Regions from separate parts of the Homo sapiens genome. Here region 1 is linked to region 2. Evidence: fine-mapped expression QTL. A gene starts in region 2. The other region holds a variant in brackets. All regions are shown on one strand. Distances are between the middles of the regions. Region 1 has its middle 34 kb from the start of RNASE3. Region 2 holds the start of PNP (purine nucleoside phosphorylase).

Evidence for each region. PIP is the estimated chance that this variant, and not a neighbour inherited with it, causes the effect.
Region 1: its variant is fine-mapped to the expression of PNP in macrophages (Nedelec 2016, PIP 0.95).

What each region holds. Positions count from the first base shown.
Region 1 is chr14:20,854,597-20,859,976 of GRCh38, reverse strand. No RefSeq gene overlaps it. Among named protein-coding and RNA genes, the nearest start is that of RNASE3, 34 kb to the left of the region's middle. The variant G/TGTGTGTGTGTGTGTGTG (reference allele first, on the strand shown) is at 2,875.
Region 2 is chr14:20,466,483-20,471,862 of GRCh38, reverse strand. It overlaps PNP (purine nucleoside phosphorylase), which reads right to left and starts at 2,457. Exons shown (of 6, transcript NM_000270.4): 1 at 2,328-2,457. The coding sequence starts at 2,338. RefSeq lists enhancers at 1,766-1,895, 1,926-1,995, 2,186-2,690 and a silencer at 2,406-2,525.

The DNA.
Region 1 (5,380 bases), 390 kb before region 2:
ACTATAGTGGAGGTGGCACATTCACCTAGAATTTTGGGCTCCTCTTCTGAGTAGTAGGTGATACTAATAGAAGAATATTTGGAATTCCAGGATTTGCTCAGAGAACTCTTGGCTAATTTTTATGGGGTGAATCTACTTCTTTCTCCCAGTGCATCCTCCTCAAGAAAAATGCTTCACCTACTGGATAACTAGAATTTCCTCTTTGTTGTCTTTCAGAAGGCTGCTTGGTAACACACACTAGTCAGGAAACCACTACTTTTGAAACAATATTTTTCTCCAAGAATTATTATTATTGACTCTTCCCTTTGTCTTCTGTCATTCTTAAGAAGGCAAAGCTAGGTTTTAGGAGGAAAGCTTGGGCGTTGTCTGAAAACAGATACAGATATCATTAAAAGTCTTGTGGGACCTAAGCAAAGTGCCTGTCCCATCTGAGCCACTAAGAAGCAATACCATGGCCTGTATTAGCTGCAGAAAGGCCCTTAAAAATAAGGCAGTCAGTACTAGAAAAGGCAAAGGAATTTGTTAAGCTGCCACTGCAAGCAAATGACAGGACAGAAACCAAACCCAGGGTGCTCTGCCCGACTAGTTCCATGACTATATGGGAAATAAAGCCACATATACAAAATCACATGGTGTATATAGCTGTGAAAAAGCTAGCATGACATTAGCTTTTTTAGGTAACAAGGCTAAGCTTATTGTCAGACCTGATGCATTTTCATCTTTTGATGCATATGAACTTTCTTTTCTACAGGATTAGGGGATAGAGAGAGGTAACTACAGAGTATGCCCACTATTCTATGGAGAATATTTCCTCTTTAGGTTTGCTGTGTCCAGAGTCTTAGCTTTAATTTAATTAAGAGATCACCAGGAAAAAGACACACGTATTCATCCATGTCTCCCTAGCACCTGGATCTGCATTTGACATGAGGTGGACTTCTGTGTTTATTATTCCCCATCTTCCTATCCAGCTGGAAAGTGGGTCTTACCTCTGTGTGTAAAACAAGATCTATCACTCCCAAACCACATGTGCACACACACACACACACACACACACACACTATGAACTGAGTGCCCACAGGAAAGATACTTATTGGTCAGTCATCCTTACCCAGCACACTGGACACCTGGATTTAAGTAAGTTCATGATGATGGAGAAAATGGAGAAAGTGAATTGAATTATTTGTAAGTCCATGCTTATGGAAAAATGAGGAAAGAAATAGAATTATTTAGTCTGAAGCTCAGAAAGTGAAGACTTTAAATCATACTTACCATGCTTACAAGGGTGATTGTAGGATATAATATAATGAACAAGAATAAATCTTTAAGACAGGGACAGATCATGCTTGAACATGTTATTTAGGTCAAGAGATCTCCATCTTCACTATAGACTAAAGGAGAAGAGATGAATGTAAACTAGGGAGGCTTAGACAAACCTAGGAAGTTTCCAGGGAATCTGCTGTCTCTAGACTTGACAAAGGGGCAAAAAACACCTCTCTCTTTACTCTTCTGATTCTTTGTATCCATTGGAGGGGGAAGGTGGACTGTGTCACTGAAGACCTTTCATCTCTGAGTCACAGTAAACATCCCAAGAAAGCAGTCCAAAATGATATCCTGAGAAGTCTACTTGAAGTCAAGTAAAATAATAATTAATGTGTACAACTATATCCTAGGCTTAACCTCAAACCTGTGTAGCTAAATGGGAGAGTTAAGAGAAGGGAGAAAAGGTGAAAATCGTACTGTGTTAGCATCCGGCCACCAAATAGAGGCAAATAAAGGAGATACTTGCTTTTTAATCCTGGTGCCAAGGTCTCTGGATAGAAAAGGCTGGTGTAAGTCAGGTGTTGTGGGAGGAATTTGCCTCTGAGGGATGGACAGTGGTTCACATGGCCAGATCAGGCAGCAGATGTGTGCCGATGCTGGCGAAGCCTTCGTCCTTACAAGAGACAAGTCAAAGAGACCCGAAGTAATGAAGAGAATGCAGAGGGTGGAGCCTCCAGCAAGCACGAGTTGAGGAGTAGTCTGGGGTTGTGAAGATGGGTATTTTTACAAAAGCAACCACATTTGAATTTGTATCTTTGATGAGAATTTTTGCACACTGAGTCTTGATGTCCTCAAAAAAGAAAATACAATAATAGGAGAGCGCCCCCTGCCGGCAAGCAGTGAGCTAGGCATCTCTACCTCTGAGCCTGATTGACCCGGCTCCCCTTCCTCGGTTTAGAAGGTGCACAGAAACCTTAGCTGAGCTGCTTCTGTTTCATTCTTGAGGGCGTGGGGGTTTTCATGGCGGTCCGGATCTTCTGTGCCTGGAGTCAGCCTAGGTTCACCATGCTGCCTCTCCTCTGCATTTTTCCTCCCCTCCAACTTCGCCCTCAGTCTCTCTCCAATCTCAACTTTGCCACACTTTTCAAGAGGCAATTTATTTTCACCAAATTTCAGGGTTCTCAAAAGACAGTAAGATTAAGTTTGGCTTCATACACTTCCTCCTTTCCATTCTGCAGATATCCTAAGGAATTGCAAAAGGGTCTGGCTCTCTGCTTGGAACTAGAGGCATGAGGAAAATACAAAGAGAAGAAAGAAAAAGTAGTATCTCAGCAAACTATCCTGCCTCACATATGTTCTTTAATTTTCTTGCTGGAAAATCTCTGGGCCCTGTCTCTATGCTCTTTCCATCTCAGGGTCCAGAATAGGGAGAATATGAAATTATATCCATGTGGGTGTAATATCAAATTTACCTTGAACCCCAGTATTAGATCCTGACTTGCAAAGACAATCTCTGAAAAGGTAAAGGGGTCTGTATGTTGGGCGCCTCAGTTGCTCTTTCCTGGCCTAACTTAAAGAAGGGCTTTGAAGTGTGTGTGGTGTGTGTGTGTGTGA[G/TGTGTGTGTGTGTGTGTG]AGAGAGAGAGAGAGAGAGAGAGAGAAAGAGAGAACCTTAACTGGGAAAGGGGCTGATTTTTTTGATGATTATCTCTTCCTCAGTCTCAATGTGGATGGGGAAATTTCCACTGTGTGGTAGCATTCGTGAGAACCACCCTTTCTACTCATTGCCAAAAGTTAGAAGTTATTGTTGTACAGATTTTTGTTAGTTGGGAAACAAGATAATTCTATAAAAATGTGGAATATTTCTATTAGAATCATTTAAAAAACAAATGCCCTTAGACTGTGTCTTTTTGCTCTCACTACTATGTGTGATCATGAATTCACAAACACTCCTGATTTTTCTGAAGTAGTGGTCTACAAACTCTAACATAAACCAGGATCTCCTGGATTAGCATTCTCTAATAAGCTGGAAGTTTATTAGGTAAAAACACAAAAATACGTGAGGCCTACTACTAATAATACAAGTCAGAGTATCTCCAGATTATTGACTCTGGGATGTCCAAGTCAGTACACATTGTTGAAGACAGAAACACACTTGTGCTACAATAAAATGTGAGCCATGTAATACAATAGATTAGGGGCCAGCCTGGCCAATATAGCAAAACCCCATCTCTACTAAAAATACAAAAAATTAGCCGGGTGTGGTGGCGCATGCCTGTAATCCCAGCTACTCAGGAGGCTGAGGCAGGAGAATCGCTTAAACCTGGGAGGCGAAGGTTGCAGTGAGCCAAGATCGCGCCACTGCACTCTAGTCTGGGTGACAGAGTGAGACTCCATCTCAAAAAAAAAAAAATAGATTAGGGGATATGAAATATCTGAAAGGAAGAAAAGGAGCCAAGAAAAGGAAAGGAGGAAAGAAGAATACAAGGGGATACAAACAATAAGCACATGAGAAGATGAAGTTTCCAGTGTGGCAGATACTCTCTTCCTTCCCTAATGCCTGGAATCTGGCTGTGCGTGGAGAAAGATGAAAGGCTCTGTCTAGTGAGTCCACTGGACTAGAAGCTCCCTGGGACTAGGTTATGTGTTTTGCATCTCCAGTACCTAGCGGTCTGCCTGGCACAGAGTCTATGCTCAGAAAGTGTTTCATTGATGAATGGAGAGACAGGTAGTACATTAGCATGCTGAGTTTGCAAAAAGTCATTAAATGTGTAAATTAGAATGTTCTACCAATTATATGTTATACTACCCTCTGTTCTATATCTCAGTGATCGTCTGTCTGAATTTCCCGCTTTGAACACTAGATGTCCTCTGGGACTGACACCATGACCAGACCCTAGCGATTCAAATCTCTCACCAGCGCTCTCCTGCTGAGGGCTGGGTCCTGTTTCAGAACTTCTGTCAATGGACTGCTCACTGAAACATTACCCTGGCTCCCACGTGACTTATAGCGTTAGCCAGTGCTTGAAACCTACTCCCCCACTGGGTTGGTTCTTCTAGAATTCTGATATTAGCCTCAATCTACTAGGCATTTTACTTTGGACTGCTGACCATCCACCTTGGGAATGAGCTCTTTAGCCAGTTCAGTCAATCCTACCAAGAACTGGCTTCTTCCTTTACTCAGTGACCTATCTCAAGGGTTTCCATGGGACCAAGAGTCATGTGGGAGCATGACAGAGGGAGTGTTGGAAGATGCATTTGTATCTTCAGTATCCTAATGCATCCTCTGGAAATTGGTGGTGTGATGGAATGTTTGATTCTAATTCATACTAATGTATGGCTACGATAGTTACCATGCCTTTACAAAGGGCAATCTGAAAAGTCACTAGGACCTTCTAAGAGAGTTAAAATGGAGCCATTTCTCTCACTTGGTTTGTGCTTCTTTTCCTCTCCTGAATAGTGAATTTCAAAGTTCTTTCATTCCTCTTTACTTTAGAAGACAATGTTGTAGGACCCCTAATCCCGCAAGGTGCTGTAAAGGGGGAGAAAGGGGTCAAGTAAATTTACTGATTAACATTAGTCAATAGTTACCACCTTATGAGGCTTTAAAAAGAATAACCAAAATAGACACTGAAACCATTCTGAGGAGGTAAAAGTAAATAAAGCCGTCTCCCCCGTGACCTTCATTTCATTTCCATTTTGTTCTCCTGATAGTGATTTTTAAGGGTCCCTAATCCTCTTGTATCCTAGAGGGCCAATACTACAGGAACACTGATCCTACTGGATGCTCTGTTGAGGAGAAAGAGTGATTCTTCCATAGGACCCATTCAAATACATTTAGGAAATCTGCTTCCCGTAGTTGGTTCTTAGATATTTACAGTGCCTCTTAGAACATGAAAAGCTCTGTAATAAATTCTATTTATGTCAACTTTTTTCTTTATTTACAAATGTTTAGGCCCTGGAAGACCTTTCCCTATAACTCCTGATAAACTTTGGGAAATGCTCTTGAAATATTTCATGATCCCCTTTGGAGGCTGCAGTTCTTTCCCTCCTCATGTTTGCTGTTCAGTCCAGTGTAATCTTGGTGTCACACTAGGTAGTGAACCTGACATTACACACGATGCCAGTATTTCATAAGAGC
Region 2 (5,380 bases):
CTGAGGGTGGTGCCCACCTAGTAAAATCCCCCTTATTACCTTACCTGTTCCCCAAAGACATTCAAAATGTAATTAAGACCAACTACTATGAAGGCAGAGATAAACTCAAATTTCCTTTTGAACCCTCATTCCTCCAGTTCCTTCCTCAGCCAAAGACTTAAGGGCTACATTTCTTTTTTGTTTTAACCAATAAAACACAATGGGACCACCCCTGGTAGAGGTCTACGTGCCATTCTTAGCTCCCTGGATCACAAGGGGGTTAATTCCAGACAAAAAACTAGATAAACTGCTGTACAAAAAAGCAGACCCAGTCCACAGTACTGGTTGTCAAAGGTTAAACCAGGACTGACTACACAAATTCTCAGCAGAAGCTTGTTAGAAAAACAGATTCTGGCACTCCAGCCTGGTGACAGAGTGAGACCCTATAAAAAACACACACACACACACACACAAAACCCCCACAAAAAACAGATTCTGAAGCCCATGTAATTTTGATTTTAAAACCAGGTTTAGGGGCTGGGCGCGGTGGCTCATGCCTGTAACCCCAGCACTTTGGGAGGCCGAGGTGGGCGGATCACGAGGTCAGGAGATCGAGACCATCCTGGCTAACATGTTGAAACCCCGTCTCTACTAAAAATACAAAAAAAAAAAAAAAAAAAAAAAAATTAGCCGGGCGTGGTGGCGGGCCCCTGTAGTCCTAGCTACACGGGAGGCTGAGGCAGTAGAATGGTGTGAACCCGGGAGGCAGAGGTTGCAGTGAGCCAAGATCGCTCCACTGAACTCCAGCCTGGGAGACAGAGCGAGACTCCGACTCCAAAATAAATAAATAAAAATAAAATAAAATAAAACCAGGTTTAGGAATTGCTGGTCTGGAGGGAAGCAGAATTCGACCTAGATTCTAGTCCCAATATTGTCTTTTTAGGCATGTAATTTGTGCTTTAAATTATTTTCTCAGGTATAAACAAGGGATGTAAATTGGCCCCATCTATCTTATAGGCTCAATCTGAAAATGAATTGAATACTTGCTAACAACTTCCAAAGACCTATGGCTCTGTTACACAAAGTATTTGAATCTTTCTCCTGCTTTCCACCTGCCTGTGGTCTTCTTCCTGTCCTTCCCCCTCCCTGCCTCCTCCCAGTTTCCTTTCTCTCCACCGAGGATCTTTGCTCTTCAGAAACCTCAGGGCACTTACCCAGAACCCCTACACTAGCAAGAATCAACCCGTGTTACTTTTCTCCCAGTTCCAAGTCCAGTTCTCTCACATCCATCTGGGAAGACCAAACGTTGCTTTCAGAGGTGGCAATGAGGTGTGACAGAGCTGAACACAACTAACCAAGCTTTCACAGGAAATTTTTTACTTGGAAAGCAGAGCCCGGGAAACCAGACATGATTGCACAATACACCAGGCTACCCTCAGGGAAGCAGTTGGATCAGGTAGGTTGGGGGCTGGTCAACGGAGCCACAGGACAATGGAGAGAAGCAATTAAGCTGGTAAAATGTTAATCAAATGGCATCCCCAAAAGGTGCAAAGGAAATGAATGTGTGAAGCTGCCGCCACATGGCATGTCTAGCCACATCTCACAGCACTTCCTCATTGGCTATCAGTCCCCTCAAGAACACCCTGGCTCCCTGGGCATCCAAAAGCAACTGTGATGCCTAATGCAGGTCACTTGGACTGGGATATCCAGGACCCAAGCCGAGAGAAGAGTTTTCAAAGGCGTGGGGTGGGGGAAGTGAGCACAGGACTGTTGCTCAGTTCGGTGACTGATTTCCGTCTCCACTTAGCAGTCACTTCCCACCGAGTTAATCATACTGCCAGTCTGGAAGGAAGGGAGGAGTGCAACTGGCAAAGGAGGTGAGTAATCTTGCCTCTAAAGGAGGAACTCCGAATTTGAGCACCAAAAGTACCTCGCAGCTTTACCCAGACCCTAGCATGGGAATTTATGAAGAGCGCAGGGGGTGAGGAGACCTCCTCCTGGTATGGAGTGAGGGATATATACATATACTCACTCTCCACTTGTTCCCCTAACACACACACGGAGACACACAACGGCTGCTTTTACGGAGTAGCTTAGACCGCACCGACCTGTCCCCTTCCTGCTCCGGTGGCGCCACCCCAGCTCGATTCCCGCGTGCGTCCCTGCCCGCGCTGGCTGCCGCATGACTCTGCCGCCTTGCTCCCGACACTAGGCTCAGTGCCAGGCCTCTCTGCATCCCCTGGGCGCTCGCTCCCTCCGCCAGCTCCCTCTGGGCCCAGTGTGCCAGGTTCCCGGGTCACAGCACCTGCCCCTCCCCAAGGGTCCTGCGGGCCTGGTGCCCTCCTCACCCGTTCTCCATGGTCTCGCAGACGCCTTCTCGATGAGCCTGCTCCGGTGTGCTCCGATCCGCTCCGATCCGATCGGATCCGCTCCGCTATGCTGAACTGAGCAAGGCTGCCGGGTCTGGTTCGCACAGTTGGCTCACTGGTCTAGGCTCTGGCTTATATCCCTTGCCCTGGAGTCCCCAGCCAATGGCAAGCGAGCACGCGGGCCGGCCCTGTCTCCATGGTGACACACCCTAATTCAATCGGCTGAACCTGGGCTGTAAACCTAATCAGAGTTCTTCCCAGCCCTAAACCTTCTGCCCCGGGGCGGGCGGGGGGAGCCGGAGCGCACCCAGCATTTCATCTCGGTACCCATTCCAGTCCGCAGGGCAGGAGTTCCCAGCAAGAAGGCCTATGCGGAAATAGGGCTAGAAGTAGGGAGGAGAGCCCCCAGCCCTCTCCTTGCAACCTCATTCCAGCTGTGTCAATAGCAAACCGTGAGAGATTCAAAAAGGAAAAATTTCATACCTTAGATTGTACAACCCCAGAATAAAAATGAAGCGAGACTGTGTCTGAGTTGCTCCCTGGACAAGGGAAGCTGGGTCGCCCCCGGCAACAGTGCTAACTTGGAGGATACAGGGTTTAGGAGAGCACATCCAGGCCCAGACCGGGAGAAGAAAAAGTTCTCAGGCAAGAATTCCGGGGTCCTAGATGCCGACAGAAAGGATAAGGATGGATTTGGTGGGTAGGGACACAGATAATCCCTTGATCTGCGCAATATTGATCCAAGCAATTCAGGTAACTAGAGGACTCCTCCCACGAAGAAAATTCTGTTATCGGAATACACGGGTACCAGAATATAACATAAATAGCGTGTCTTTGGTAGAATACAACTATTACTTCTGCCCACATTTACAATTTAATTTTTACATTTAATTTACATTTTTACATTAAATTTACATTTAATTTTTAATTTAAAAAATTAAAAAAAAATTTATATATAAAGGCCAGGCGCGGTGGCTCACGCCGGTAATCCCAGCACTTTGGGAGGCCGAGGTGGGTGGATCACCTGAGGTCAGGTGTCGGAGACCAGCCTGGCCAACAAGGCAAAACCCCATCTGTACTAAAAATACAAAAAATTAGCTGGGCGTGGTGGCAGGCGCCTGTAATCCCAGCTACTTGGGAGGCTGAGGCAGGGAGAATGGCTTGAACCCGGGAGGTGGAGGTTGCAGTGACCTGAGATCACACCATTGCACTCCAGCCTGGGCAACAGAGTGAGTAGCTGGTTCCTGAGAACTTACTAGCACTTTGAAAATAACAATGCACACAAATTGAAAAAAAAATTTCGTTCTTAAATAACCACAAACAGTTACTTACGGGATATGTACATCTGTTTGGCACTACTCAACTTCTCACATGCAGGAATCCAATGCTGCCACCCTCATTTTCTGTTCCATGCTGATTTTTACACAGTACTTTTTTTTTTTACTTAATACTTAATTTTTATCAGAGGGACCTTCTAAAACCATCTTTTGTAAAGATATGTTGTCTTTATATATATATATATTTTTGAGACAGGGTTTCACTCTGTAACCCAGGCTGGAGTACAGTAGCACGATCTTGCCTCACTGCAATCTCTGCTGCCTGGGTTTGAGCCATTCTTTTGCCTCAGCCTCCCGAGTAGCTGGGATTACAGGTGCCTGCCACCATGCCTGGCTAATTTTTGTATTTTTAGTAGAGACGGGGTTTTGCCATATTGGCCAAGCTGGCCTTGAACTCCTGACTTCAACTGATCTGCCCACCTCGGCCTCTCAAAGTGCTGAGAGTATAGGCATGAGCTACCACACCTGGCCAGATATATTGTCATCAAAAGGAATGTAGCACAATCTAATGTTCCAACTGTGAATCACCTCAAGTTAATAGGTCACACAGTGTTTAAGAAATATAAAATATTGCTGTGTTTCCTCTGAAAATTAAAAATATTCCACAATACCCTTGTGAGCTTGTACTTTGGCACAGTTTGGGAACCATGGCCCCAGTCACTCCATGCCACCTCATTCCTGAATCTATGTAGTGTAAATGAATGGGCTCTAATAAAACTACCTGTGTATGAATGCCATCTTCACCCCTTATTTACTCGTGTGATTCTAGGCAAGTAAAATTCTTATTATGCTTCAATTTTTTCATCTGTAAAATAGCAATAATCTTAGTATTTTTGCAAGGATTATACAGAATACCTTTTACATGTTTAGGTAAATGCCTGGATATATAATAAGCACACATTAAATGCTGGCTATTATGATTAATCTCCATTGTCTCTTTCTCTTTTGTTCTTTCTAGACTCACCTAACCATAAATTGAATCAAAATAAAAACTAGAGGTATATCCAGCCTATCAATACCAATGAATCCCACACTGTTCAAAACAGAAGGCACTAGCCATGTGTGGCTATTTAAAAGTAATAAAATTAATTAAGATGAAATATAATAAAAATAATTCAGTTACCTAATCATACTAATTACATTGTAACTTCTCGATAGTCACATGTGGTTAGTGGCTACCATATTGCATAGCATAATTACGTTTTTATGCTAGAGCACAGCACTGTTCTTATCTTTTCTAGTCACTGCCACCTTGTATCCACATAAAAGAAACTGGAACTGTGCTTTATTATTTACTTTTAGGGTAAAAGAGTTCCTGTAGCATTCCTATAGACAGGAACCAGACGATCATCAATCTTAGTGTGATTAGAGTTCATTAATGCCTTATTACCTTTTCTTCTATCTTCTCATCACTTCTATCTTCAGAGGGACTCCTTGTCCAGGAACATACTTAGTAACACACTTACCCTCCACCCGCAAGATCAAGGAAACTAAAAAAAAGTGGCAGGAATAGGTTCTAAGTCACTCAGTATTGCCTTGTGGAACGTATTTTATTCCTGCCCTCTCAACTGAGATCTCTTATTCTCTCTAGATCACAAGCTAAATATGCGGTTTTAAAAATATCTATCCCTGGCCAGGCACAGTGCCTCAGACCTGTAATCCCAGCACTTTGGGAAGCCAAGACAGGAGGATTAC